Linked DNA regions of Homo sapiens: all the other regions are linked to region 1. Evidence: fine-mapped expression QTL. A gene starts in region 1. Each other region holds a variant in brackets. All regions are shown on one strand. Distances are from middle to middle. Region 1 holds the start of SMPD3 (sphingomyelin phosphodiesterase 3). Region 2 overlaps SMPD3 (sphingomyelin phosphodiesterase 3). Region 3 overlaps SMPD3 (sphingomyelin phosphodiesterase 3). Region 4 overlaps SMPD3 (sphingomyelin phosphodiesterase 3).

Region 1 (7,477 bases):
TCTTTAAACATTTCCATAGAGGTGAAGACAGCAGCAATTCCATGGCTTGAACTAGCTTGAAAGAACTTCAGACAAGAACATCAACTCAACACTCTGAAGGTAGGAGGGAGCCCCCCAATAGAAAGATTTGTGATTTTACCTGACAATGCTCACACTCACTCTGAGCCTCTACACCATGGGGGAGTGTTAGTTGCCAAATTGTGACTGGTTTAACCTCTTTCCAGCAGAGGTCGCTGTGGACACTGGGAGTGGATACTTGTGGGAACTGGATCAGGCAGCCTGGGCTAGATAGATGGTGGCTACATTGTGTAGTACTTGCTCTTTCTGTTGTTCTCCTGGCCATCATCTGGTCTCTCATCCTATGGGAAGTAGATCTCTGTGAAGATTATCTCAAAGCTGCACAGTACCTTTGCTATGCAAGTGCTGTGAAATCAGGGTCACTTATTGGGGAGGGCAGGTCTGGGAGGGGCATGCTTATCCTCTAGGGGTATCACCTTGTAGTGTATGTCTGTGTTACCCTTGTTTCCTCTCTGAGGAAACAGTATTTCTGAGACACCTAGTATTTCTGAGACACTGCCTGTGACTGACCAGCAACGTCAGCGCCATGCCCTTCCAGACATGGAGGCCAAAGTGACAAAAGTTGCCTTGCAACGTAGTCCTGCACCCACATCATAAGTGACTCTGTTGATGAGTCCCCTGCCAAGCCTCACTTGGAAACACATGGTGGTGGTGAGGGGGCAGAATTCTGGTCTTTGGAGCAGCCTATTACAGTAGGATAAAGCTTCTGATAAAATGGGAAGGGCAGGGCACTGGTGAGTATGTCAGGGTCAGACCTGAGACCTCAGAAGGGCTGAAGAAGGCTCCACATAGTTGTGAATTCCCCACTTACTGGGCCTTTCGCAGGCCAGGCAGGCTAGGCACAAAGCAACCTGAAGCTACCTTCACCCTGAGGGCATCCACTCGGACCCTAGGTCATTGCTGTGGCTTGAGAGTTAAAGATGTGACTACCCTGCTCCCCACCCCCACAACATCCAAGCCCATCAGTAAATGAGTAAGTGGTTCATCTACACACACACACACACACACACACACACACACACACAGCCCGAAGCGCAAGCTCTGGCCGTGCCACACACATGAAGACTGAAACACACATGGGTACATTCATCTAGTCACACACATTCACACCCACACTCTGACCCACACCATCATCCATGCAAACCCTCACACACTTAAACACATCCCCTCCCCAGAACCAAATTTGACCTAACATGGCTGATGGGGCGTGGGAGGGTCCAGTCAGGATGTCCCTCTGGACCCTGGCCCACTCACGCCCTGTGAACTCCAGGCCCCTTGCTCAAGGTGGAGCCCCCACCTGTCCCTGTCCTAGTGGTCACAGGTCCTGAACACCCCCACTCTCGGCCCCCGAAGGGGCCCTGGTCACCATCGCGTGCACAGAATCCTGGGTGCCTGGCTGGCCTTAGGGTAGGGGGTATGGGAAAAGGGAAAGATGTGGGGGCATAGTGCCCTGCCCTGGCTCAGCCGCCTCCTCCCTCGGGATTTTCCATCCCGGCTCGCGCGGGCCCGCTAGAAGCCGGTGCGCTTTGTCTCCCGCCCCGCTCCTGGCACGTTTCCGTGGAAGCTGCCCGCGCCGCGCCCGAAGCCCCCCCTCCGCGGCCGCGCCCCCCGCCCAGCCCGCGGCGCAGGCCTGCCAGTGCGGCGACCGCCGCTTTGTCCTCTCGAGGATGCCTGGGCCGAGCGCGAAAGCCCCATGCCTTGGAACAGCCACCGCGCGTCCTGGAAGCAGGTCCCCGAGCCTCGGTTTGGGGTGCGCCCTGCATCGGAGCGGAGCAGCCCCCAAAGATTCGCGGGCACGAGGTTGGGGGTAGCGTCTACCTGGAGCTCTTGAGTGCTTGAGGGGAGACCCGCCCCGTCCCGCTCTGTACATGCCCATCTGGGATTGGCCCCCAGCTGCGGTGCCAGAGGCTCGGTCCCCGGGGCGTGGTGGGCTAGGGCGGGTCGTCTCGACTTAGAGCCCCAGGCCTGGATCCAGGTAGGGAGGGCCTGGGAGATAAGGCCCAGGTGGGGAGAGGTGGGGAGGGGTCCCTCCTGTCCTCGTACATCCCCCTACACTACCTCTCACACCCAGGCCACCCAACCCTCGGCGCGGGCCCGAGCGCGGGGGATTCCGAGTGTCAGTGCTTTCCTCCACCCGCGACTCCGAGAAGGATGGGGAGGGGTCTCCCAGCGTTTCCCTGCCACATTCCAATTCCACCCTTCACCAGTAACCTAGGAGGGTCCAAGTGGGAGGGGTAAGAGTCCTCTGTCTCTTCCACATCCTCGATCCTCCTCTTTACAAAACCCTAGGGCCAAGGGAGGAGGGGGGAATAGGGAGGGGGGCGAGTGTGGAGGAAGGGGCCTGGGCAAGGGTCTTCCCTGCATCCCAAGCAGCCCTTCCTGAATACCCCTGGGAGGGTCTGGGCTAGGGGAGCGGTCCGCGATCTCATCCATCACCACCAGACTCCTTTGTAACCTCGAGCAGCCGAAGTGTTGCGGGGAGGGGTCCCCCTGCCTCGAGTCCCTTCATCCCACAACACCTCATCCTCCCGTCCTGAGTAATCCGAGCAGCCCCGTCGCCAGGCACAGCGGGAGGGAGGGTCCAAGCCTCCTCGCTCTCCCAGGAGAGATGGGGGGTGGGGGTGACCCCCAGCCCTCGCCCCTCATACCCAAGAGCCTTCTCCATGATAAAACGAAAACTAACCCAAGCTGCTCCGACCTCCGGCGCCCGGCCACGGGAGGCCCCTAGTCAGTCGGCGGCTGTCCGGGACCCGCGGTCCTGAGAGCAACGAGAACACGTCCCGTCAACTCCCCAGCCCCTCACGCCTCGGTTCGCCCGCTCCCCAAGAAAACAAAAGCGAATTCAGCAGCACTGACCTCTGACGGCGGGCGGGAGGGCGGTCAGCGCCCGGCAGCGCACCCCGCTCCTCCCGGCTCCTCACAGCCCGGGCTCCCGGCCGCAGATCTGGCGGCGGCCGCAGCGGCGGCGGCTCTCGCGGCTCTCGGGTCCGGAGCCTCCCTCAGACTCAGCACCTGGAGCGGCGAACAGCTCCGCGCTTCATTCCTCTGACCCCGCCTCCCTCGCGCCGCCGGAGCCAATGGTGACCCGGACCCCGCCCAGGAGTCTGCCCATTGGGGGCGTCCTCCCCTCTCCCTCCGGCCCCGCCCGCAGGTTCCTGGGTCTCTCCTTCAAGACCACATCCCCCAGAGACCGGCGGAGTTTCGCACAGCCTTCTGGGACTTATAGTTCTTTAAGGACGCGGAGTGGGCTCACGCCGCGGGTAGGCAAACAGAGCGGGACTGCATTTCCCAGAGTGCACTGAAGACACGGAGGCGCGGAGCAGGGCGGGAGGACCGTTTCCATAGCAAAGACGACCAGCCGAGGATGGCTGGCGGAGGCGTGGGGCAGGCCGCAGGACCCTCGAAGGATCGTGTGAGACCCCGGGCAGCCTCTTGGGAGGCCATTTCGAGGAGAAAACCTTGATTTCTGCCTCAGGACCCTGGGCCTCAGTTTTCCTATCTGAGAAGAAGGGCGAAGAGCTGTGCCCCCGACCACACCCGTCGGTGATGGGGCAAACCGAGGGCAAGCAGGTTTGGTTCCTGCCCAGCAAAGGTGAGGGAGGACGGAGGAGACTCTCCCACCGCATTCAGAACTTTATTCCTTTATTTTTGTCTCAATCTTGTCATAGAGGAGCGCTTCACTTTTGGTCATCCCTTGGGCCACCAGGGCCTTCCCGTCTCCGTCTTCCCATCGCAGGTCCTGGCCTCCTTCACACCACTCCAGGATACCGCAGCATCTCCCCCAGCGCAGCAGACGGAGGGCGCTTCACATGCCCCCGGACCTAAGCCCACTCTCCCCTTCAAGATCTGGACTCCACTTTTTTGCAACACTCTTAACTTCTTTGGAAGCTGGGAAGCCTCCTACTCCCTTGGGCCTCTCCACCCTGCCCTCAGCTAACTCGTCGGCAAGCCCCAGCCTAGACATTGCCTGTTTTGTGAAGACATCTAGATGCTGGGCTGTCTGTTGAGTGCCCCACCCTGTGTTTGAGCAGCACCCTCTACTTCCCCTGTTCTACTTGCATGTTTATGTGCTCGTCTTCCTCATTATAAGATCCACAGGGGAGGGGCCATGTCTATATTATTCATACTTACAGTCCAGTGTCTAGTATCTGGCACGTAGTAGGCACTCACTAGCTATTGAGATATAAATATAGATATTTGTTGAATTGAAAATGAATTGGGCCGGGCGTGGTGGCTCACGCCTGTAATCCCAGAACTTTGGGAGGCCGAGGCAGGTGGATCACTAGGTCAGGAGTTCGAGACAAGTCTGACCAAAATGGTGAAACCCAGTCTCTACTAAAAATACAAAAATTAGCTGGGCGTGGTGGCACGTGCCTGTAATCCCAGCTATTCAGGAGGCTGAGGCGGGAGAATCGCTTGAACCCCGGGAGGTGGAGGTTGCAGTGAGTCGAGATTGCACCACTACACTCCAGCCTGGACAACAGAGTGAGACCCTGTCTCAAAAAAAAAAAAAAAAAAAGAGAAAAAGAATAAAATTAAAAAAAAGAAAATAAAGGAACCTCATTCACATACACCTCCAAAACTCTGATTTCCTAAAGTTGGGCATTTCTCATTGCTGGAGGTGTTCAGTTAGAGGCATGCCGCCCCCTTGAAGAAATGTTTATTTCATTTGTACAGTGGGTTGGGATTTTACCTGAATGCTTTGAGTACCCTTTTAATCCTATGATGCTAGAGATTGATAGACCCATGCCTATTATTCCTGTCAGTTCTCCCTGAAATGTCATCAGTTCTTCATGTTCCGCTATTTCTAGCTGTTGGCCCTACTCGTTTCTGTGCCTAAATGCCCTACCTCCCACTCCTTTTCTGAGAAAGATCTTCTGCCCTGTCAGTTATGAAGTAAAGATGTCCTAAGATTCCTGCTCTTTCTTTTTTCTTTCTTTCTTTCTCTCTCTTTTTTTTTTTTTTCGACGGAGTTTCGCTCTTGTTGCCTGGAGTGCAATGGCTGGAGTGCAATGGCGCGATCTCAGCTCACTGCAGCCTCTGCCACCTAGGCCCACCTTGGTCTCCCCAAGTGCTGGCATTACAGGTGTGAGCCACTGTGCCCGGCCTCCTGCTCTTCTTTCAACCCTCTGCTCAGCATCTTAGGCCTCATTGGTGATGTCCCACCTTGCTAGGTAGCATCTTTCCTGAATATTTCTCCACTAAACATTCTGATGTTGGCTAGATGGCCTAGTTAATCTACACATTTCATTTTATCACCTTCTCCAGATGTTTTTTTGTGTATGTCAGCTGATACACTCTGGGGAGAATGCCTTAATATATGGGAATAATTAACTCATGGCCAAGAAGGAAATAACCAAGGGGACTTTTACTCTGGACCTAATTCAAACCAAAGAGACAGAGCCTGAGAGAAAGCAGCTCTGTCATCCTTGAGTTAGTAACATCCAGGAAGGGAAGGCTAGGGTGGGGGAGTGAGTAAAACAGATGGCATTTAGGGAAGAACCAACAGGACTTTAAGAGGCATGGCAGAGGGGCTTTGATCCTGGCTAAACCATCAGGGAAGGCAATTGGAGCTGGGTGAACAGATGGGGTCTTATTACTGAAGAGAAAACGGTAAGGAGGCAGGGGGAAATGGGACGTGTGCTAAAGCAGAGTGCCTCATTCAGTGGATGCAGTGAGAGCAGAGGCTGTTGGAAAAGTGGATCAGGGAGGACCATGCCACCAGGTGGGCATCAGCAGAGTATCACCCGAGTATTGCAGAGGGATACCAAATAAGTCCACCTGAAGCCAGAGCTGAAACCCTGTGGAGGTCCGTTTACCCCTTCAGAAGTAGTGTACCACCATCCATCTACCACTGGAATCCAATTTCAGTTTTGGCAAATTGTTATAAATAGGAAAAAGTCAGGGTTCCACAATTCTGGCAGCACCCAGAGACTATAACAGCATCTGCACAGCCAAGTAGAGTTAGGAAACCTGGATCCTAATCCTGACTTTGCCTCTGATTAGATGTGTGATCCTGGGCTGGAGCTGTTTTTTCAGTTGTAAAATGCTGTTTATTGGTGTTAGGTAGCAGCTAATAAGGCTGGAGGTGGGGCTGGGTGTAGTGGCTCACACATGTAATCTCAGCAGTTTGACAGGCCAAGGCAGGAGGATTGCTGGAGGCCAGGGATTTGAGACCAGCTTGGGCTACATAGTGAGACTCTGCCTGTACTAAAAATTAAAAAAAAAAAAAATAACTCAGTGCAGTGGCGCATGCCTGTAGTCCCAGCTACTCAGGAGGTTGGGGTGGGAGGGTTGCTTGAGCCCAGGAGTTTGAGGCTGCAGTGAACTATGATCAATCACACCACTGCATTCTAGTAGCCTGAGTGACAGAGCAAGACCTGTCTCTAAAAAAAAAGAAATTTTTTTTAAGGGTGGAGGTAGGGAAATTCAAAGCTACTTACTAGCTGTGTGACCTTGCCTAAACTACCTCCTTGGATTTGCAGTCTGTTTATTTGAAAATGTCATAAGGGATAAATGAGATTCCTTATGTAAAGTACTTTATAAATATTAAGCACTTACCAAATGTTAGTCTGTTTTCACATTATTCTTCTTGGATTACCAGAAATTGGTTTGACCATGAATAAACAGGAGATAATTTCTTGGGTAATCTGAGTTTGAATCCCCTTTCTCTCTCTTACTAATTGTATGACTTTGATTAGGTTATTTAATATTTAATTGTTCTGGGTCTCAGTTTTCTCATTTGTGAAATTAAAATGTGTTCTTCAGAATTGTGAGGGTTAAATGTGATAAAAGGCCTGACTCATATGAGAAAATGCTCAATATATTTGTTTTGTCATTTTTAAGGGGTGGTTTTAGGGCACAGAACCCTAAAGGAATGAATGGAATTCTAAATACTTCGAAGCTAGAGTAGTGAAAGATTCCAGGGGAACACAGTGCTGGCCTTCTCCCTTCTTCTTGGGGAAGAAAAGATCTCAGTGAAGTTCCATGGGTCTTCTCAGTAAGTAAAGAGGAGATTAACTAGAATGCTGAATCTCAGACACTGAGGGGTTAGAGTGATTGACCAGGGCTGGGTCCTGAAGAGCTTGGTATTCTAGGCTGAGAATATAATTTTATTCTAAAGCTAATGAAGGTTTTTAGGGAGATGTGCATTTTGAAAAGGTCTAGGGGCTGCTTGGAGAATGGCCAGGAGAAGATGAGGCTGGGATGTGGATCGGGAAGGTGCTGCGGTGATCCAGCATGGTGAGTGGAAAAGAGGGGGTAGATCTGAGAGATAGTTTTATATTTATTTATTTGTTTGTTCTTTAAATATTAATAGTTCATCAAGTTTCCCATCTTTTTTAAGTAGCTCATCACAGAGTTATTAAGAAGGTAAATATTCCGAGGACTTTGTGAATGA
Region 2 (7,477 bases), 86 kb before region 1:
AGGCGACCTTGTGATGACAGAAAATGACTTGCCTAAGGCCGCCTGTGAGGTGGGAGGGGAGGAGCATGCAGCCCTGACTCCCACGCCTGCTGCCCCGGGAGGGGGTGCCTGGGTGGGGAAGCTATGTTGGGGTCTGGTGTGGGGGCCCTGCCCGGGCCTCAACTGCTCTCCCTGTGCAGGCAGTCGGCAGGCGGCTCGGGGTCTAGGGGTCCAGGGCCGGCCGGCCCAGTCGCTTGTGTGAGCAGAGTACCAGCTGCTTCTGGAAGTTGGGGGCCTCCACATCATGAATCCCAGTCAAGGCTCACAGGCCAGCCCCTTGGAGGGGTGGGCCGGGCAGAGAGCCCAGCAGGATGCTCGCCCTCAGCAGCCCCTTCCTGGCTCTGGACTCTGGAGGGGCAGGGCTTGGGCCCGGGCAGACGGTGCTTCCCAGGCCAGGTGAGTTCAGACAGGCCAGTGTCACAAGGACGCACGTCCTAGCGCCAGGCTCCCTGGGCTCTGCAGCGTTGTCTGCCCCAGCACAGGGCCAGGCATCTGGCTGGCTGCGTGGCCCCCTCTTGGTCCCTCTTGCAGCTCAATGGGTGACAAGGCACAGCATCAGGGCACCAGCACCAGGAGGGGCTGACAGCAGACAGCAGGTCCTGGTGCTCCCTCCAGCCTCACCAGGCAAAGCCGGCCCTGGGCCAGGCTGGGTGTAGGGCCAGGGCGCCACGAGGAGCGGAGGTCAGCGGGGATTGTCAAAAACAGTCCCTCAAGTTGAGTCTCGAACTTTGAAACAGACAAAACCTTCGCTGCATGACAGGAGCAGCCCTGGAGTCTCTTAAAGGCAGGTGGGCAGAGGCAGTGCTGCCGAAGGGGCCTGGGGGCTGTAGGCATCTTGGGGCTGGAGGCAGATCGGGGACCACAAGCTGTTGGCCAGCTCTGCCATGCTGAACTTGGGTGCCAGTACCACACCCTGCCCTGGGCATGCAGCAACTGTCAGCCTTGCTGCCCCAGCTTGCGCACTGGTGAGGGCCAGGCTGCTCTCTGCACCTTGGCTTCCTGCCTCCTAGGCCGGGGTCCCCTTGTGGCCTTGGTGTTGGCTGGGGTAGCTGTTGAGGATGGGCCTGGGAGGCCAGAGCCGCAGCCCCACCCGGGGGGCAGGCAGGGGTTCCTGAGCTCAGCCGGCACGCAGGTGGGGCACGTCCCCAGGGAGGGATTGGTCCCGAACCAGAGAGGTGTCCCGTGGGGGAGAGGATTGGCAGAAAGAAGAGGATGTGTTGGTTTTGATAGAAGAGAAGCTACAAATAGATTATTTTCAAAATCAGGATCCCCCCCACCCCCGTTTATGCTGTGAGTCCCTTCTTCCTGTAAAAAAAAAAGTGGATACTCTCTTCTCGGATCCCCGTTTATGGCTCCACTGCCCAGATGGGAGGCTCCCGGAGGAGGCCCAGGGTGCCAGAGCCTGCCAGACTCTGTTGTGCCTGAGCTGGGGAAGGGACCCTGTCTCGGGAAGAGCAAAGTTCTATGAGTGACTTACAGACCCTGTGAAGTGAGGGTTGGTTTTGTGATTAACCTTTTTCTGTTTTTCTTTTTAAAATGTAATTGCCCTTGAATGCGAGACCCTGGGAAGAGCCCTGGGCTGGCTGGTAGAGATGCAGCCCTCGGACCCTGCAGGAGCCGGCCCACACTGGAGGCGGGAGAGCTGGTGGCCGTGCCCAGGAAGTGCTTCTTTGGCTGGTTCTGATTGTGTTTGGAGTTTGGCCTTGGGTGAGGCCCGAGCAAGGGGTCTGTGGCTACAGCGTGGCACGTGGCATGCGGGCAGCGTGCATGCGAGGGTGCAGGCATGCGAGACGACATTGGCAGCAGACAAAAATAAAGAACCCTGGACGAAGCTTAAGAGGAGATACAGAGAGTACACGAACCCGGTCCTCATACTAACCCACGGGTTACAAACTCGGTTGTGCTGTAGATTTGTAGAAAATCGTGTTGTGAAAGAATGGCACTGGTTAGGCAGCTGGAGGCTCCTGGGGCGGGCCTGACTCCTCTGTCCACAGTGAGGCCCAGAGGCGCAGAGCAGCGCAGCTTCCAGGTTCCCGGGCACTGACTGTGGCTCCCTCCCTGTCCCTGCCCTCCTCCCCCAAGCACCGGGCACTCGATGGAGGGGACATGGCCCAGGGATGGGCTGCAGCTGCAAGGGCTGGCAGAGGCCCCGCTGCTCCGGACGGTCTATGCCTCCTCCTCCCCCGAAGACACCATCAGTCGCATGGCTACTGGCAGGTGGTCCGTCAGGCCGGACAGCTGGGTGATAAAACTGAATTCTTCCACCTCCTGGGGTGAGTGGGAGAGGGGAGAAACAGCCTGGTCAGATTCCAAGGGCATCTTGCAGGGAGCGGCCTGGGGATCCCCAAAGTGAGGCCCCGGGGCTGGGGTGGGCTGGGACCTTCCTGCAGTCAGAGGGATGGGGCCTGGAGGACCTGGGGCCCTAAGGGTCTGAGGGAGTGATGGGTATCATTGTAAGAGTGGCCTGGGGCGTGGGGTTTCAGGGAGCGGCTGTCGAGAGCTGCAGGGCCCGGGCCCTGCTCTCTCTTTGCATGGCCCTGGCTGCTGGGCCCTCCTGACTCACGGCCTTCCAGTCTGGGCACAGCCCCTCCTCTGCATGCAGCATGTAGTCGATGCGCCGGCCGTTGCCCTTCAGCAGCTCCTTCCGCCCCTTCTGGCCCGAGCTCTTGCTGGTGGGAAACGCCAGGTACTCCCTGCGGCCCTCCTCACTCTCCAGGACCCTGTCCACACATGCAGGAGGCAGGTGGGCCCCCATGCCCGCCCCTGTGGGCCTGGCAGGGGCTGTGTGTGGAGCCATGGTCTCCTCCCAGTGTGGGAGCGGGTGGGTGGGACCAAAGCGCTGGGTTTAAGATCTCTCCCCTGCGGGTCCAAAAAGGGCCTCAGCTGGGGGTAGGCCGAGTTGCCTGTGGGTTCCTGGCTGAATCTGGGCTCCGGAGCCCGTCGAAGTGTTCTGTCCGCCCCAGCCTGGCCAGCACTCACTTTCCCTTTCTGAACTCGGACAGAACTGATCCCACCCGTTCCCCAGAATGGGCTTCTGCCCTGAGCCAACAGGGGCCTGTTTTGAGGAGCTTGGTCTTTGCCATGAGTCTCGGGGACCCTTGTGACTGTTCCCAGGTTGACAGGAGCTGAGGGAGCCAGGAGAGCACCTCTGAGGAGTCTCAAATGGGGCTGTCCCTACGTGGCTGTGTGACTCTGCTTATGTTACCAAGCCTCCAAGCCTCTGTTTCCTCCTCTGAAACAAGAATGGTTGCTGTGGGCCCCAAGACGCTTCAGGGAACAGGCTGTCATCCCGCTTCTGAGTGAGGAAACCCATGATGGTGCTAGGGGATCCACAGGGAGGGCAGGGCGCTGGAGCAGGGGGATGTGACATCTGGAATCCCTTTCTGGCACTGTTGCCCTGAGACAAGCAGTATGCCCGTCTGCTTCCTGCCAGCCTGTCCCCTGGGGCCTCAGCACCACTGGGCCAGAGGCTTAGGACCCCCTCCTGGGAGCCCCCATTGCAGAGGGCAGGCTGGGGCCAGGGCCTGGGATGGCAAGTGCAGTGGTGAGAGACCCTGCAAAGGCCGCCAGGTCTGTGAGTGCCTGGACGGATGCAAAAGGGGCACCCGGCGAGGCAGGGCCTGCAAACATGGGCTTCCACAAGGTTTTCATCAGCCTTAAGATAAATACACTAATGACATTCAGGACATTGTTACAGCTCAGAAATGGAATCCATCACTGTCCTTTGCCCTTGATAATTAATTCCAGCATCAATGATCTGAGAGCTACTGGTAGTCATTTTTAAATCATCATCTCATAAAAAGAATTTTCTCAGCATAGGATGATGTTTCAAATTTAGTCTATAATCTAATTAATTGGCTCAAATTAGCTGCAAGGAACCATCGCTGTGACTGCAGTCTCGGGCTGTGAATTATAAATTGGTTCTGCTGTTGGCCTCTCAGATGTGTTCTTT[A/G]TGGACATCTTACTGGGCTCAAGAATGAATTTTGGCTGGGATGGAACTGTCTCTACTTTGAAAATGGTCGGCTGTGTTATTGCAGCTGGTGTCTGTATTTGCCTGATTGGTGCTGCAAGCTGCCAGGCTGCCTTCAGCAGGCGCCGTACCCAGCAGCTCTTTCATGGGGGTCGACCTGTGGCCTGGCCCGGGGGAAATTCCAGGCCCTTTCCTGTACCCAGCAGGCAGGGGCTCGGGGCAGGGCTAGCTCCTGAAAACAGGTTTGGGAAATACCCCTAGAGATTTAGCAAGGCCAGTACCCCTGGGCGTGAGGGCGTGAGGTCTACCTGCCTGGCCCAGCTCCCAGCTCTCAAAAGCTCTCAAAGGTGAGATGAGGGACAGGTTTCTGCCAAATAAAAGCCCTCATGAGCCCGAGCTGAGCTCTCCCATGTGGGTCCTGCCCAGTCCCTGTCTCCACCTTAGTCAGGGTGTGCCTCGTCCCTGGCCTGGGAGCGCAGTGCTTACTTCTGCAGGTTGTCGGGGGTGCACACATCCTCATCGTACAGGCCGTTCGTGTCCAGCAGAGTACCTGGGGGGGACGAGGGGGTGACAGTGGTCGCTGCAGGCAGGGCCCAGGCAGCCTCTAGGGGGTGGCCTCTGTGGGTGGACACGGGCTTCTGCTAGCCAGGGGCAGCTGAATGGGGCCCTTCCCCAGCAGTGGGGTCTTGTGGGGTAGGTCCTGGTGATCTTTGAGGGAAGTCTGTGGGGAGCCCAGCTCCCATCCTCCTCCCCCAGCCCCAGCTCACCGATGGCCCACGGCTTCTCCTCACCAGGCCCCAGGCGGCAGGGGTCCCTGTAGTGGGTGAACAGGGAGTGTTGCTGCTCCAGCTTGTCGTCTGTGCGGGGAGGGAGGAAACGCTGAGGCACCAGGGGGCTTTGCTGTCCCACACGGCCTGTGCCCCTGCTTCCCATCAGTTACTCCCCATGTGCTGCCAGGCCCCCATCCCTTAGGCCACTGCCCCTGGGTGGGATCTCAGTCCCATTCAGGTGCCCCGTGCTTCATTTGTCGCTGCTTTTCTGTGTCCTTGAGAACACCTCCCCCAGCACACGCCCTGATCTTCAGCATTCCCTCTGAGGACAGTGACAGTGACCACGGTCCTCGGACAGAGGAAGGAAGGTCCCCACAAGGTCCATGTGGTCATCGGATCCACAGATCAGTTATTTACAGCAAGTGTTTGCTGTTTCACTGATGACGAGCTTGTAGTCTTTCACCCTAATGGTTTAAGGTGCAATTCCCAGGGTTCAGATCCCAGTGCAATCACTGCCTGGCTATGTGACCTTGGGCTGGTTCTCCAGCCTCTCTGAGTCTCAGCTTCCTCCACCACACCACGTGGAGACATGCAATGCTTCCCTCTCAGGGTTGTTAAGACACTTAAGTGAAACAGCGATAGAATGGCAGCTGGCTCGAAGCAAGAGCGCGGCGCCCCGTTGATGGGTGTTACTAGTGGACTCGTCCTTTGTCTGCTTCAGAGGCCCCCAGCCTTCCTTGTCAGAGGTTCGTTTTTAGGGCATCTCTGTCTCCAGCTTTCTAGGCAGAGCGTGGGCTCTTCCTGTTCTAGGATTTCTAGGGGGCAGAGAAATCAGTCTTGCTAAATACCCCGCCCACATGCTCTCGAGGAGCAGGAATTCTTTGAGCTGCCTAACGAAGTCTGTCTAGCTGTGACTGAGCCCACAGCCTCCCCAGAGCTGGAGACCTGAGTGGGGAGGAGCCCGGCCTCACCAGAGGAGCAGTTATCAAAGTTGAAATCTCCACAGACGACGTCAAATGCCACCAGCTCCTCGGGGTTGGCTGCGCTGGACGAGGAGGTAGATTTTCGGAAATCAGCCAGCCAGTCCTGAAGCAGGTCCAGCTGCCCACACCGGATGGCGCTGTCCTCTGCAGGGCAGAAGTACAGAGACTGGATGATGAAGTTCGCCCCAGACCCCAGCTAGGCCCCAGGCACTGATCCCATGCCTAGAAAAAACACAGGTGGGCGGCAACCCTACCTTGCGGGGCATGCAGGTGTGTGCAGGCGATGTACCCGACGATTCTTTGGTCCTGAGGTGTGCTTCCCACCTGCACCTGGGGGAGGAGGGGGTCAGTGCTGCCACCTGCCAGTCACTGTGGCCCTGAGAGCACAGGACACTGGCAGTGCCCACCCACCCATGAGGTCAGACCCTCACAAGCCTGGCTCCTGGCTGGATTCTGGGGTCCGAGTAGGGACAGGATGTGTCCTGCTTCTAGGGACTTACGGATCTGGGCCAGAGGCGGGTGCTGAAAGAAACTATTGGCCTGTGGCGTGGGGAGTGCTGGCGGCCATCTGTGCAAAGCATGGGGGAAGTGCCGAACCGCAGCAAGGCTCCCCGGAGGCCCAGGCCCTGCCATCTCCCAGTGACCAGCGTGGCCACGGCTCTCAGTTCCTTGTCCAGTCCTGTCTGTGGCTCTTTCCTCCCTCCCTCAGTTACACCCTAGACCTGGTCACACCCTGGTGCTTTCTCCCCCTGAAATCTCAGGGGGTTGCCCCTGTGCCATGGCGTGGCCTCAGAGCCCACCCCACACAGCAAGAGGCCCAGACCCTGCCCCTCCTGGCCTCGTCGCCTTCTGGCTGCATGGTGAGTCATCTGCTTTATAGGCCGTGGTCCCGTTGTCACCCGTCTTGGATGAGAGCTCCCTGACCTGTGTCCTAGGCTGGCCCCTGCACACCCCTGGCTCCATCCTGAGCCCACTGTGGCAGCATCCTCTTCAGGTCTCCCCTCTGCCCCGACCTCCTGCTTACCTCCTTTACCCAAGACGGAGCAGGTGACCCTGGCAGGATCCCAAAGGCTGGCTTAATACAAATTAGCATCTCCACTGTACCCTGCAGGCAATTCATAACTGCCCTACCCCAGGTGGGGGCAAGATGGAGCCCTTGTCAGTGCTCAGCCCAGGAGAGGTGAGGGATGGCCACAGAGATGCCCTGCACAGAGAGGCCGCTTACCAGCTCCTCATCCCCTGCCCCTGGGATTCCTTCCCTCCTGTGCCTCTGTACCCTCCCCAAGCCATGCAAATCCATTCCAGACTGAGTTTCCCAAGATGAGGAGACCCCAGACCCAAAAAGCACTCCAGGGAGGTGGCTGGGCAGGACACACTGCCTCTCCCAGTTGTTGGCTGAGGGCAGAGGGCCGCAGGGTGGGTGCCCCACATCTGTGGAGCTCACAGCAGCCCAAACGTCACAGCCCATCTGCTCCAACAGCCTCGGCAGGCTCCGTCCTTCCTTCACTGCTGCAGTCGGTCAGGCTGGTATTATCTCCTCCATCTGGACGTCCTCAGCAGCAGGTGCCCCTGGCTTTCTACAGCTCTTCATCCCCTTCCCAGCCCTAATGCACAGCCTTCCTTCCCCAGCACCTGGGGGTACGAACGTCTGGCTGTTCAGCCCCACAGGTTCACCATTCACTTCTTGCCCACAGACAGACCCAAACCTTAGCCTA
Region 3 (7,477 bases), 33 kb before region 1:
GGATGGAAGAACATTTTTTGAGTACCTGCTACATACACACCATCTTAAACATGTTAACCTCCTAACAATCCTACAAGTAACTATTATCTATGTCATTTTATAGAAAAGAAAACAGACTTAGAGAGCTGAAGTGATGTATCCCAGCTCATGCCGCTAATGCTTTTTTCTTTTCACCCTTGGCGTGGCTCAAGTCCTTGGCCTGGGGCCTATGTGGAATGCCTGCTCTTTGACACCAGGTGAATGAGGCTTTGCTGGATGCACAGGGCCTGAGTTTCGGTGATGTTTTCCAGGGTGGTGGTGATGGCTGTCACTGTCCCATCAGCTCACTGTGGGGACCGATTTTCTGCCCTGGCCTCCATAGCTTTGGCCACTCTGAGAGGCGAAGGCCCTTCTTCTGCCTCTGCTCCAGGATAAAGCTCCCCTTTCCACATGGGAAAGCATGAGCTGTGAAGCCTTGCAGCTGGAAGATAGCTGCAAGATAGCTGGTCTATCCAACAGGAGGTCTCCATCATGAGGAAGGGACTGGCTCACCTGGAAGATAGTTTTGTGAACCCTGTCCTCCAGAGAAAATTATCCCTCAAGGCCTTTGATGATGAGAGGCTCTGTTTTTTCATTCCTTAATCATTCAGAAAACATAGAAAATCATTCAGCTTATTCAAAATAGTGGAAAATCATTGAGGTTTTTTCCTGTGTAAAGGTCAAACTATAAAAAGATATATGGACTCAGAACTCCAGGCTAGTCATGAAAACGTGGCAGTGCATTGAAATGGATCCAAAAAATGGTCTAATCCTCCTCTGGAAACAGCTCATAATAATCCCCTCTCCACTCTCCCCTCTGTGTGTTAAATTCCTGTTTGTAGGTTCAAGGACATGAAATCAGTGATTTTAATGGGTAGAGCATGGGCTGTACAGAGCAGGAGTCCTGGATCAGAATCCCTGACCAGCTGCTACACACCAAATATAAAACCTGGCATGCTCTGGTGCTGTTCTGGTGCTCTCCTGAAGGGCCTGGGGCACCTCCTGTCAAGGTCTGGGTGGGTGGACACTCAGAACCTTCTCACCATCCTAGCTGTGACTTTCCACCTGAGGTGTGGACAGATGAAGGTTGGCCCGCTGGCTATACAGAGTCTGAGGATGGCGCTGCCAGACTATGGTAGAGACAGATTCCCTGCTCTGGTCTCTGTCCCCACCTCAGCCACCCAACTCTGTTCCCATAGTCTAACAGGGCTAGGCTGAGTATAGGCTTGGGTGACCTGTGAAGTCCTTCCAGCTGGAAGATAAATAACTTCAAGATGGCTATTTCGACATTTTAAAAGGGCACTTGGAATTTCACTGCTTTTGTGAAGCTGAGCAAGAGAAGGGAGGACAATAGGATATTTTGAAAACAGCCTAGAGAGTAAAAGCCTCACTTTCCTCTTTATTAATTCAGAACTTGGAGGAAATCTGTGAAAGTATCTTTCGGAATGTAAGAAATGTCTGTGACCCTTCTTTAGCAAGGCTTGACCCGGGCTCAATTATGTGCAGTCCCACCTGTGGGGTAGGCTCAGCCTGGTCTCTCCCACACTGGGCCACCCACTGGAGGATAGAGGAGGGGGTTTGGGAGATGGAGTCAGTCCTAATGCTAGGTCTGGCAGTCAGATTTCCTGGTGGGAGACTCTGGGCCTGGGAGGCCTCTAAGCCCCACAGGTAGGAGCCAGTCTTCATGTCCTGGTTTGTGTCCAAGCAGGAACAGAAGGAATGGCATGCACAAAGACTTGTAGGGGAAAGTGCTGGCTCTTGGCTCTGGCCAACAGGGCATGGCATGAGATGAGGAAGGCTGGCAGCAGCCAGATCCTGCAGACATCAGATTGAGTGGCATGCCCTGATTTGTGTTCTACAAAGGCCACATGGGCTGCCGGGAGGGGAAGGCTCAGAGGCAGCAGGGCCAGGTAGGAGGTGGCCTTGGTCACCCAGGGACATGGTGACAGAAGGCAGGAGATGATGAATCTGGAAGACTGACGGACCAATGGCTGGTGTGACAGTGACAGTGAGAGGGAGTGGGCCTAGCAGGGGGTCTTTCAGGCCTCTGACCTATGCATTGGGTGGATGCTGAGGCCTCATCTGAGACGGAATGGGTGCTGTGGGTTTGGGCATCTATGATGAGTCAGAGATGCGCAGGTGACAACTAAGGTGGCTGGCGGACATCCAGGTGGATCCATGAGAACATGGGCCATAAACTGTGCCATTAGGGAGAAACTCAAGCCAGAGACTGAAAGGTAGGCAAGGGCATCCTACAGGTAACGCCCAGAGAGTGGATAAAATCCCATGGGGAGAGTTCAGAGTGAGACCCAAAGAGGGCCAGGAAGAAGCTCCTGGAGTCCCTGACATTTGGGTTTGTGGAGAAACCCAAGGAGTGGGCAGAGAGGTGGCTAGAGAGCGTGGAGTGGGTCCCTGAGGCAAGAGTCCTTGGGGGTCAGGCAGTAAGGGGATGCCTGAGAGGCCGGGCTCATCACTGGGTCAAACTGTGGGGAATTCTGCCCGTTCAGCAATGCTGAGGGTCTAGCTGCAGTTTGAGCCAACTCTGCAGTTTTGCAGATGGTTTGTTTTCCTGGACAGAAGGTTCAAAGCAGGCTTCCCAGGCATTTTCAGGAGATCTGTCTACGGAAACGTTAACCTACGGCTTAAAATTTCTTTCTTCCAGTACCTTTTAAATTTAGGTAACCTGAAAAGTGTAACCATGACTACTGTGTTTGTATTATTTTAATATTGACTTTTAAAAATATAGCAAAAATATATATAGCGGATGCTTATTTTAAATGTTAACATGAGGTTCTATTTTACTATTCATTATACTCTTCAGATGAAGAATCTAATTTAAAAAGATCTACAAATTTCATATGTAATTTGCAGACTCTTGAAGAGTCTACCTCTTCAGCTTTTTTTTTTTTTTTTTAGGTTACAAGAGACTTGTCCTAGACCCTTAGGTATTTAATGTGACATATTCTGCCTCACAAAGTAAAAGAGAAAGGGCAGTTTTTGGCTCCTTTACAAACAGCTTTGCCCCCAGATGTGTCCAACGGCCTGATTTAGTATTAAAGCTCTGAAATGATTGATTATCCATTAGGGTAGCTATTTAAAGAGTTCATCACATCAGATTCAAACCGACAACATCTGCGCTGCAAGGGCTGCTGGAAGAGCCAGGCAGAACCAAATGGAAACCTGGATGGAACTGTGGATTCTGCCTCCTGCAAGACTCTGAGACCAGACCTCTATGAAGGACAGTAACAGGTTGCTGCTGCCACTGTGCCCGTAATCAGGTGTGTGCCAGCGCTTCCTGCTGGGCCCAGGCCAGGGAGAACTCCTGTGAATGAAAACTGACATGGGTCATAGCTCAGAGCCCGACCCTTTCCCCTGCTCTAGGCCTCGCCCTCTTCCCTGGTCTCCCCATTGTTCCCTGTGAGCCCCTTCCCATCTCCCTCTCTCTGGGGCCTCCGACCCTGAGTTGTCCCAGGCTTCTACTTCCCGTCCCACTCTTCCCTCCACAAATCATTGCCACCGCCCAGCTGGGTTTCTCCCTAATCCCTCCTACCCTCCTGTCCAGAATGTTACCGGCAAACCTTACACAATCTAAGGCCGTTGTTGTCTTCTAACCCTAGCAGTTTCCCTCTTAACAGCAACATCAAACTTGTT[C/G]CCTTATTCTGCCTCGTCCTTGTATGCTCAGCAAACAGTTTACCTTGGCAGGTTCACCAGGAAGTAACAATACTGCTAAAGCCAGGTGCTTTGTGGCGCTTTTATTTCTGAAGCTGTGTGAATGTAGGTAGGTGTGCCTTAGGTGAGTGTTTAATAGTTTCCAGGCTGAAGTTGTTGTCACCCATGCAGCCACTGGGGCTTCAAGCCCTATCTGTCCGGTGGGTCAGAGCACAGGTGTGTCAGAGCATAGGCCATGCTATATTCCAGGGGCAACTTGGCTGGTCCTGAGGCCTGTCAGGTCTAGGTGGGAGGCCCGTGTCGCTGGAAGATGCCTCAGTCCCAGGAGAGCTCTGTGGCTGGAAAGCTGCTTCCTGATTGCCAGGGCACTCAGTCACAAAAGCTGTACCCAAGGGCTCTTTGGGGTGGCTGCCGTGGTTTCCACTTAGACCCTGTCTTCAGGGCTGGTGCACCCATCCCCTGGGTACTGGGGACATCTCACAGCTGTGTCCCTCCCTAGGCATTGCCCTCAGCTGAGGCAAACTGCCTCACTCAAAATTAAGCCCTTTCTGAATGATTGGCAGATGGGGAGGGGGTACCAAGGCCAGGTCCCTTGGCCCCCATCTGGGACAACTCTGAGGAGCTATCTCAGCTCCTGAGTTCCCTGTAGAACTGCTGAGGTCTCATTTGCACCCACAGTCTGGGTCTGTTTCTCCATCTGCCTGATCCTGCCTTCTTCACTTCCCTGAACTCATCAACAAATTCGCACACACTCAGGGAACCCAGGCTATGACAGCTATCCCGACTCAGCTAAGAGGGGCTGGGTTGATTGATAGCCTCTTACCCCACTCCAGAGCCACTCTGGCCCTGCTATGCTGGGGCTGCTGACAAAGCCCCCTCAATTGTTCTACTGTTACTCTTTTATTGCATTCAAGCCTCCCTAAGGAGCCACTTGAGAGACATTTGTTTATTTTTGAACTTGGACTTAGGAAATATTGTGCTTCTTTTGGCCTTTGGTCTGTGTTTGGATTGTGTTTATGATACAAACACAAACAACTGGGGAAGAGATTGGGCTTTCTTTGCTTTGGCTGCTAGGAAGCTTGGAGACCAGTCCTAGACCTACACGCTACTAGACAAAGATGCTGGTACCTTCAGAGTTCCCTTAACGTGCTTTCCTTGCTATTGTTCTTTGTGTCGTTTTGCTATATCACACAGCTCCGTCTGAGCTGCCTCAAACCCTGCGTGGAATGAAGTAGGGTATAAATGAGTAAACACATACATACAGCCATGGGGGTGTGGTGTCAGACAGACCTGTCTGCCGGTTACCAGCTCTGGGACATTTGCCAAGTTACAACTTCTCTAAGCCCTAGTTTATTCAGCCAAGGAGTGGGCCTGATGCCTGCATCACATAATTATTCTGAAGAAAAATACAACAAGCACATGCCTGGTACATATCAAGTGCTCAATAAATGGTACACATTCATAACAACTTTTTATAAAATCCTGTGCTCTCAAGAAAGTGCCCTATCATGTTGCCGGATCTGCCCCCACTCCCTTCCTGTTGTGTGCGGGCTGTCAGCCAAGGTGCATTTCTGGCTTGTTGGGTTTCACTTTCTCATGGGAGAAAGATGCCTACCCAGGCACCTGCAGCTCACAGCAGACGGTGTGCCGCAGCAGAAGGTCCCGTGTAGATGCCCACCGAGTTCATCCAGGCAGGTAGATACATGACTCAAATACCCACAAGAGAAATGAGCACCTACTTGGCTGGAGGAAAACTAAGACTCTTTATGTAAATGAAGCCTTCATAAAATGAAAAAAAAAAAAAGGTTGTAGATGAGAGATGGGTGATGAGTAATTTAACCAAGACGATGCAAATCTAGGCCTTTGAATACTTTAAATATAACCATCTGATATAAAAAGAATTGCACTAAATTTTTTAAAGTAGAGAGCTTTCCTAGGGTGAGAGACTCACTTTCCTGATAGGGACATATTCCCCAAAAGGCAAATGGGGAAGGCAAAGAACAACATCCATGTTGACATCACATCCCCCTGCAGGCAGCAGAGGAGGATTCAATGCATTTTATAGTCTACACTAGCACCCCATATACCACACGTTACCTTGCAAACCAGTTTGGATCCCATATGAGAACAGGGATGCCCATTTCAAAGGGGAGGTAGCTTGGGAAACTCTTTTGTTCATTTCTAAAGTAAGCCTGCCCCTGGCTCTGTCTCCTTGTAAATGTCAGGTGGGCCTGAACCATAGTCTTGAGCTTGTCTAAAGATGGGTCTGGACTTTCTTGTCCTTTTGGGTGATGAGAAGGCCAGAGCAGGGAACCTTCTGTATGCTGGGTCTAGAATGGGTCTGCTAGATGTATCCTCCTAGAGGGGAGAAAGGGATGGTGTGAGTGCAGGATGCTGAGGAAGGGGTCAAGGACAGGATGGAGAGAGTGTGGCATGAGGGCAAAGCTGGGTACAGGGCAGGCCCCAGTATGGTCTATTTGTAGAAATAGGCCTCAGGAGAGGTGAGAGGGATGAAGAAGTAGTGGCTAGGGGCCACAGCTAGTATCTGGCTGGGCTGTCTAGTCCTGGAGGGGTAAGGGATGCTGGACCATACCCTCTAAGGCTGGTTTAGGAGGGTCGGGGGGTCTTGGAGGAAGCTGCCCAGAGCAGCTATGGCCACCAATGAGACAGGAAGAAGTCAAGGTTGATGGCGCTTGAGCCAGGGTCCCACTGCAGGGACTGGCTGAAGTTCTGGAACATGCATTGAGCACATTAACAAGACTGAGGATTTTGTGTCAGGTCTCTGGAACCTTCCTTTGGGGGATCAGCCAGTGCGGGAGAAACAGGTGATGGCTGGGTGGCCAGGAATCTACTGCCCTATCACCCACAGGCAGCTCATTGTATATCACATGTGGGGACAATGTCCCCCTCAACGCCTAGCCAGAGGGATGGGGCAGGATGGGGATGCAGCATCCAACATCTGTTGACTGTCTTTCCTCAAATCCTGTTACACATTTCCTTGCATCTCCAGAGTTTTGGTAAGAGAAAAACCATGTACTTCACCTCTATCTTGACAACAATAACTTTCCTCCCTTCCTATGGAAGATAGAGAGAACCCTCCTCACCTCCAACATAGCACAGATGCCCCAGGGCCCAGCTTCCATGAACCCCATGTAATGATGATGATGAAGATGACAACCATAATGAAGCCTTACTCCTAAAATGAGTATAATGACACTAATGATAAAGGCAGCATCAGAGAGTGGGGGAGAGAACAGACTTTGAAGCCAGACTGCCTGAGTTCCAGCTCCACCTATCACTAATTGTGGGAACTTGGAGGTCACTTTGTTCTTGGGCTCCCTCATCTGTAAAGTGGGGATCAGAGTAGCTGATTATTGGAACATGTAGTATCCCGAATAGCTATTGCTTTTTTTTTTTTTTTTTTAAGAGATAGTGTCTTTCTTGTCACATGGCCTGGAGTGCAGTGGTGTGATCTTGGCTCACTGCAGCCTCAACCTCCTAGGCTCAAGCAATCCTCCCACCTGTCTCCCAAGTAGCTGAGACCACAGGCATGCACAGGTTTTGCCATGTTGGCCAGGCTGGTACCGAACTCCTGACCTCAGGTGATCCATCTGCCTCAGCCTCCCAAAGTGCTGGGATTATACGTGTGAGCCACCATGCCCGGCCATTATTCTTATTACTAATATCATTACTATAGGCACCTTTCATATCCATTTCATTTGAACTTCGCAATCCTATAAGGAAAAAGGTACAATTGTTATTGTCCCACTTTGCAGATGAGGAAATTGAG
Region 4 (7,477 bases), 24 kb before region 1:
CACCATCTGCACAGTATCCCCATCCTCCCTCATCTGCTTCACCCCCATTCCCAGCTCTGCCCTCGCACATCTGCCACCTGCTTTCTGTGGCTCTGTCTGGCGCTTGTGGGGAATGGCAGAGACTGTGTAACTCAAGGTAAAGAGCTTGAACCTCCACCCAAGGATGAGGGGGAGCCACAAAAGGGAGAGACGTGGTTATATGTGTGCTTTGGAATGACAGCACAGGAAGATAGGTATGTGGGGTGGGGGATGAAGAGACCAGAGGCAATGGAGCCAAAGCCAGCATGGCAATGAGCCAGGGGGACAGACTTATGACCAACCTGGCAGTGTTTGTGCAAACCACTCCCCCAGTACACCTGAAGAAGCCATGTCCAGTAAAACAATTAAGTCCAAGCCCCACTCCCTCACTCTACCACCTCCCAGACACATCTCTTTGACTTGGCTAGGGAATGAGGCCTGATACTCATAGCTCGGCCTCCATTCCTAGCCATTGACATTCCAGGGCACCATTGAGTTCGACCCATTAAAGAGTCTAGGGGTGGGCATTGTTTTTCTTCCCTACTTGCTTGATGAAACCAAGGCTTAGGGGTCCAGTGGCCTGCCTATTAGACTTGGTAGTAGCCCCTGAAAGATGTCCATATCCTAATCTCCAGAACTGGTGAATATGCTACTCTATGTGGCAAAAGGAACTTTGCAGATGTGATTAAGTCAAGCATCTTGAGATGGGGAGAGAAGCCTGGATTATCCAGATAGGCCCAACGTAACGACAAGGATCCTTTTGAGAGGGAAGCAAGACCGCTGAAGGTGGAAGAAGAGGATGACAAGGAAGCAGAGGCTGAAGCTTTGAAAATGGAGGAAGGAGCAAGGAGCCAAGGAATATAGGCAGGCTCTAGAAGTTAGAAGGAAACAGATTCTCCCCTAGAGCTTCCCGAAGGAACACCAGCCTGCTGATGCTTTGATTTTAGCTCAGTGAAATTGATTTTGGGTTTCTGACCTCCAAAACTGTAAGATAACATATTCCTCAGCATCACCAAACTACAGCAGAAATCCTCAGAAGGAGGTGGAATTTATCCTAGGTGAGGAAATATTGTGATTCTGCAGAGGCCCTCATGGAATCTGAATTAACCTCTTCCCTTGCCCAGAACTGGGAAAGCCATGGATGTTGGGCCTGGTTCTCATTTTGCTGTGATCTGGGCAGGTGCTTGGACAAGATAGACGTATAAGGCCCCTGAGCAAGAAGCTGGAAGAATGTGCAGGAAACAGAGTATAGTAAAGTGCTCAGAGGGAGGAAAAGAAGGTTTTGCTGTTGTTGAAATAAAAAACAGTACAGGCCCAGCTGCTTGGAGGCCTCCAGTCAGGTGAGAACTGGTGGTGAAGAATTCCACCTCCCACTGAGGGGTTGTTTAGTTTGATGATGCTGAGGGTTTGGAGAAAAGGGGAGGGAATTTTCTCCTTAGCCACAGATCTGAGATGACTGCAAATTGCTTCCCATGCAGTCTCCTTATTTTAACCTCCAGGGAATAGTGGGCGAGTTTCTGCCTCCCCTGGGTGTACCTGCTGCAGAGAAAGAGGTGGCGTGTAGGCTGCTGGGAGATTCTGGGCTGGGCTGCACTGGTTCCTTCGTTAAAGTGAGGAGGTTAATGTGAGGATCTCTGAGGTCCTTTTCAGCTAGAATATTGGAGTCTCCTTGAAAAGCACCAGTTTCCTTAACCATTGAACACATATACAGCCCCAGCCTGATTTAGAGGATTTTAGTTGTAATGGTAAACCTTTCCACAGTTCTCAGCGGGGGCTTCACAGTCATTTTCAAAGTTATTAGCTCAGTGATCTTCACAACAACCTAAGAGACAGGCACTGGTATTACCTTATTTTACAGCTGAGGAAACTAAGGCTCAAAGAGGTGAAGTAATTGGTTCAAGTTAGCATCAGAGTCAGGATTTTGACCAAGGTTTTCTGGCCTCCTTGTCACCTCCTTTATGGCACAAAAGGGATCTCAAAGATCATTCCCTTCTTGTGACCTTGCTCTGAGTAGCTGAAGATGCTTCCTGGGATTCCTCAGAGAGTTACTTACTAGCTGCTATGGTTTGAATGTGTCCCCCAAATTTCTTGTGTTAGAAACCTAATCTCCAAATTCATATATTGATGGCATTTGGAGGTGAGGCCTATGGGTGGTAATTAGGATTAGTT[A/G]AGGTAGTTAGGGTGGGGATCCATGATGGGGCTGGCGGCTTTATAAGAGGAAGAGAGATCTGAGCTGGCATACTCTCTATCTCTCTCCATCTTCTACCATATTATGACACAGAAAGAAGACCCTCATCAGATGCGACCCCCTTGATCTTGGACTTCCCAGCCTCCAGAACTGTAAGAAATACATTTCTTGTCTTTCTAAATTACCCAGTCTCAGGTGTCCTGTTACAGCAATAGAAAATGAACTAAGACACCAGCAAACTGGGTTGAGTCTTTTTCTTCCTACTGGTCTTGTTCCTGAACCCCAGATCTCTGCTTCAGGCTTAGCCAAGGAGCTTAGGACCACCTCATTTTTTACCCACCAGCAGGTACTTCCTAAGCTTGGCACTATTCCAGACCCCGTGGGGCACTCTGAGCATGAAAGAACAGACTGGCACAAGTGAAACAAGTTATGGAGGCTGATGTGGGTGGTTCTGGACCCCAGCAGTGGCTGAGGAGGCGGTGATGTCACCCAGCAGAGCAGTGCTGGGGAGATGGAAGGTCTGGAGGCCTCAGTGGCGGTGAACAGTCCACAGTGAGGGTGGACATGGCCCAAGGTGACCAAGGGCTCGGCCTGGGGACGTCACCTGCCCAGTCAGGCCCTCCCTGCACAAAGCCCAAGGAGTTAGCCAATGGCCAGGGCAGTCTTAGCCAGGGGGCCTAGGTGGTCCTAGGGTGCCAGAGGGTCCTAGGCCCCCTGGCTAAGCCTGCCCTGGTCACTGGCTGTGGGAACAACAGTTTCTCCTGAATCCTCTCTTTGGCCAGGAGTACTGCCATGTCCTTACTCCTGTGTATACATGGCAGGATGTAATTATCCTAAAGATACCATCTTGAAGCTTTGAATCCTGAACTCCCAGCCCCAGCATTAAGTCTGCCTTCTGCCTTCTTCACTTGCCCCTCCACAATGGGGCTGCAGGGGCCGTAGGGGGAATAAGCATCAGCAGAGACCCTTGTGACTCCTGGGCACTGCCTGCAGAGCTTTGGTCCTGTGTGCAAGGGCCTGTGGATCATGGTCGAACAGTCAGACCCTCAAGTCATGTTGGGCCTGACTCCACAGTGACCTGGGAAAAGTAATTTTACTTATGAACCCCAATTCTCACATCTGTAAAATGGAGGTAATCATAGTAGCTGCATCATACAACAGCTGAGGGGATGAAATGGGAGAATCCACACAGAATGGTTCAGCGCCACGCCAGGCATCAGCAAAGTTACTGTCTTGATGACTCTATTCTCTTGCAAAGTTACTGTCTTCATGACTCTATTATAAACCAGAAGAATGTTTTCTCTTTTTTTTGAGATGGGGTCTCACTCTGTGACCCAGGCTGGAGTGCAGTGGCATGATCTCAGTTCACTGCAACCTCCGCCTCCTGGGCTCAAGTGATCCTCCCACCTTAGCTTCCTGAGTAGCTGGGATTACAGGTGCACATCACCATGCCTGGCTAATTTTTTGTATTTTTGGTAGAGACAGGGTTTCACCAAGTTGCTCAGGCTGGTCTTGAACTCCTGGTCTCAAGTGATCTGCCCACCTTGGCCTCCCAAAATGCTGCGATTGCTGGTATAAGCCACTGCGCCTGGCTATATTATAAACCAGAAGAATGTTCTTAAGAAAACAGTCCCTAATAAAAGATGCAGAAACCTCCTCCCAGGAAGATGTGGAAGAGAGGCCTGGGCCTCAGCTGATGGGATGGTGCCTGTGGGTTGGTAGTCATGGCACTCACTCCCACTTATCAGATAGTAGGGCTTACAAGGGCCAGAATTAGAACCTCTGGCTTTAGACCTTTGGTTGTCAATTCTCTGTATATGGGAAATCAAAACAGAACTTCATGGATGTCTCTGGAGGTGCACCGAAGTCAAGGCTGGAACTGGTGAGGGAGAATCTTTCCTATTCAAAAGAAATAGACTGCTTGGGATGGGTGAAGGCAGGGGCAAGAGCCCTGCATGCCAAGAGGGTCTCCTCCAGCTGGATGGTTCCAAGGTTTCACATGAATAATCAGTAGGAGGGAGCGAAGGGGCCCAGCTTCCTCATCTCTTGGAGAGGGTCTTTGGCTTTTGCAGAGTGACAGCCACAGGAGGCAAACTCCACTGGATGCCATGAGGACAATGGGTGGGGGGGCGGGCCCTAAGGAGCCAGAGTCAGAAGAAGGATGGGCAGAAACCAAGGAGGCTGTGATGACAGGGGCAGGGAGGTGGCAGCGCCATGGGACACATCAATGCTGACCCTAAGCTCTTCAGATTGCTGTTAGCACTGTGAGGCAATAAGGATGGGTGAATCTGCAGGCTGGGAGGGTGGTGGGATACTCAGCAAGATATCCGGCCTCGGGCCAGCCCAGGCTGGGGCTGGGTGGTGGGGATCTGGAGAACAAGCACTCCCTGCTGAAAGAGAGGGAGAGGTGTGCCACCCAGAAGGAACAACACCTGGGTTTGTCAGCCCTCCTCCCTTGCACTATGCCGCGAGGAAGTCAATCACATGTGTGTCTCTGAGGTGACAATGTACCCCCAGCACAGAGGATTCCATGTGGAGGATGCTAAGGGAGCACTGAGAGTGGATTTGCTTAAAAAGAAGCAGGGATCCCTAGTGCTGATGATGGGCTAGATTTTCCTCAAGGAAAATAAACTTCAGACTTAAGACACAACAAAGGTGAAAATAAAATAGAGGCTCTATTTTAGCCATCTTATCTACTACAGTATCAATAATCCTGTTCCACTTTTGCAAGATGCATAGCATAGTTCTAAATAGGACGTTTACATGATCAGGTATCTAGTCAACATTTGAACGGAGAATCTACTAAGGCTTAATGTAGAACCAAGCCCCACGGATGTCAGACACAGGTGTACCCACAAGGAAATGAATGTTGATTCAATAACCTTATTTGATCTTTGACAACCCCATTTATTATGTCATTATGGGGACTGGAGACTGGAGGAAGAGAAAACAAAGAGTGGTGAGCTGGCTCACCCTGGTCACACTGACAACCAGTTCATGACCATGTCAAGAAGCTTCTGTGGGTCTCCCCACAGTGGCCTGGAGCTGACTCCTGGCTGACCTAGTAGCTTGTCCCTACTGCTTGGCCTCCATAAAAGTGACTCATTGATGAAAGTTGCCAGGGGGAGCTACTGAATATCTGAAGGAGAGACATGCTTCTGAAAACTGTGAAACAATGAAAAGCTCTTAACAATTGATTTAAAATCAATATGGTGTGGAAATAGCACCCAAAATAGAAATATCCTCAAGAGGCCAAGGGATAGATGTACATTCGTCATTGCTGTTTCTGTCACTGCACTCATTTTCCAACCCTGACTGTGTGTACACATGTAAATATTTCATACGGATTCAGCCTCACACTGGGCTGTTCAACTTTTTATTAATAACAAGAATAATAATAACCTCATTTGTGGAGTGCTTCTTTCTGCCAGCTACTTTAAATTTACTCATTTAATCCTGCCATCAATCCACGTAGGTCAATATGGTTATTCCCATTTTACAGATGAGGAGACTGAGGCTTCCTAGGTCCACTCAGCAGCCTATTTTAAATCAGAGATTTAAACTCAGGTCTATCTTTTTTTTTTTTTTTTTTTTTTTGAGACAGAGTCTTGCTCTGTCACCCAGGCTGGAGTGCAGTGGTGAGATCTCGGCTCACTGCAACCTCCACCTCCGGGGTTCGAGCGGTTCTCCTGCCTTAGCCTCCCAAGTAGCTGGGATTACAGGAGTGTGCCACCATGCCTGGCTAACTTTTGTATTTTCAGATACAAAAGAGACAGGGTTTCACCACGTTGGCCAGGCTCGTCTCAAACTCCTGACCTCATGTGACCCACCTGCCTCAGCCTCCCAAAGTGCTGGGATTAAGGCGTGAGCCACCATGCCCAGCCTTAAACTAAGGTCTATCTGATTTCAGAGATGATCTTACCACTTTTCTGTATCGTCAAACTTGCCAGACGGCAAGGAAGAACTGGGAGGAATAATGAATGCATCTAGTGAAAGAATTGGGACCCTAAGACATCTGGAGGCTCTGGCAGCAACTGTCCAACAGAACTTTCTGCAGTGATGGAAATGTTTTGTTTCGACACTGTCCAATATGGTAGCCTGTAGCCACACATGGTTATCAGGCACTTGAAATGTGGCTTGGGTGACTGAGAAACTGAATTTTTAATTTAATCTTATTTATTTATATTTAAATAGTTACACATTGCTAGAGGCTCCCATACCGGACAGCACAACCCTAGTGCTATGGGCAGAAGTCAACAAGATGATTCTGGGTTGAGAACTGTGTAACATCTAACATTTGGGTCACAGGAGTGGGATGGGGAGTTAAAAATGACTGGGGGGGGGTGCTGATGCATTGTGAGCAGTCACCTCCAAATGTGGGAGCTGAAACATCGAATCAGAGAAAGGAAGGAGGAAGGGAGTGGGCAGGACAGAGGGGACGGGAGGAGCTTGGCAAGCGGGGGCAGGTACAAGACAGGTTCACCTGAGGATCCAGTCCCTTGTTCCCTGTGCTCGAGACCCAGAAATGCAAAGGAAAGATGAAGACTTCAGAGAGGGGAGGGTCTCATGCCACTTAGTGGATCTACCCACAGGGAAGCATCTTCCTGTGCCTCTGTCAGCTTCTTAGACTTCCCATGAGCTATGTCCACCTTCATCCACACCCCATTTCTATGTTTGCTTTGGAGTGTCTGAGCAGCCAAGGCCTCATCCTTGGAGCAGGGAAGTAAACATCATGGAGACAAACTCACTTGACTTCACTTAGAGAGGCTAATGACCCAAGATTTTCCAGCTCAAAGGCCCTGTGAGCATCTCCCAAGAAGATATGGCCATGGTAAAAAGACATTAGGAAGCAGAGGGCAATAAACCGTGTATGATCAGAAAGAGTAGGACAAATCCTTGACTAGTGTGCCAGAGGCAACGCTTTGAACAGAAGAGCCACACAGGCTGCCTCAAACAGCCACTCCACCCTGGTTTACAAATTGAATGCATCCTTCACCCCGCTCCTGCCCCATTCTGCAGATTTGCAGGGAGCAGGAGCAGCAGCAGAAGGGCCTGGGCAGCTTGCTCCAGAAGGGACTTCTCATCCTGGATTTTCAAAGGGGAGGGTGGGTTTATCCCTTTGTCCTCATACTGTCTTGAGTCTGGACTTCAAAACGTAAGAGGTAAATAGGAGAACCGGTCACAGAGAGAAAAGGGCTTCCCAGGAAGTCATGCTGGGAACTGGAACATCTAACCCCCTATTTTCCATGTCTGATAAAGAAAGAGAAAAAG

Evidence for each region. PIP is the estimated chance that this variant, and not a neighbour inherited with it, causes the effect.
Region 2: its variant is fine-mapped to the expression of SMPD3 in thyroid (GTEx, PIP above 0.99). The same link has a PIP of 0.9 or more in tibial nerve.
Region 3: its variant is fine-mapped to the expression of SMPD3 in pancreas (GTEx, PIP 0.94).
Region 4: its variant is fine-mapped to the expression of SMPD3 in esophagus mucosa (GTEx, PIP above 0.99).

Annotation. Positions count from the first base shown.
Region 1 is chr16:68,445,419-68,452,895 of GRCh38, forward strand. It overlaps SMPD3 (sphingomyelin phosphodiesterase 3), which reads right to left and starts at 3,090. Exons shown (of 9, transcript NM_018667.4): 1 at 2,935-3,090. LOC124903705 (a long non-coding RNA gene) reads left to right here and starts at 3,422. Exons shown (of 2, transcript XR_007065097.1): 1 at 3,422-3,648; 2 at 3,747-6,727. RefSeq lists a silencer at 2,788-3,307 and an enhancer at 3,408-3,457.
Region 2 is chr16:68,359,001-68,366,477 of GRCh38, forward strand. SMPD3 (sphingomyelin phosphodiesterase 3) reads right to left here. Exons shown (of 9, transcript NM_018667.4): 4 at 6,017-6,092; 5 at 5,751-5,906; 6 at 4,777-4,866; 7 at 4,496-4,559; 8 at 2,603-2,759; 9 at 1-2,307. The coding sequence ends at 2,206. It also overlaps a transcript of PRMT7 not described here. Among named protein-coding and RNA genes, the nearest start is that of PRMT7, 52 kb to the left of the region's middle. RefSeq lists enhancers at 3,568-4,380, 4,381-5,192. The variant A/G (reference allele first, on the strand shown) is at 3,992.
Region 3 is chr16:68,412,890-68,420,366 of GRCh38, forward strand. All of the region lies in intron 1 of SMPD3 (sphingomyelin phosphodiesterase 3), which reads right to left. Among named protein-coding and RNA genes, the nearest start is that of SMPD3, 32 kb to the right of the region's middle. The variant C/G (reference allele first, on the strand shown) is at 3,670.
Region 4 is chr16:68,421,212-68,428,688 of GRCh38, forward strand. The region is part of intron 1 of SMPD3 (sphingomyelin phosphodiesterase 3); the gene reads right to left. Among named protein-coding and RNA genes, the nearest start is that of SMPD3, 24 kb to the right of the region's middle. The variant A/G (reference allele first, on the strand shown) is at 2,188.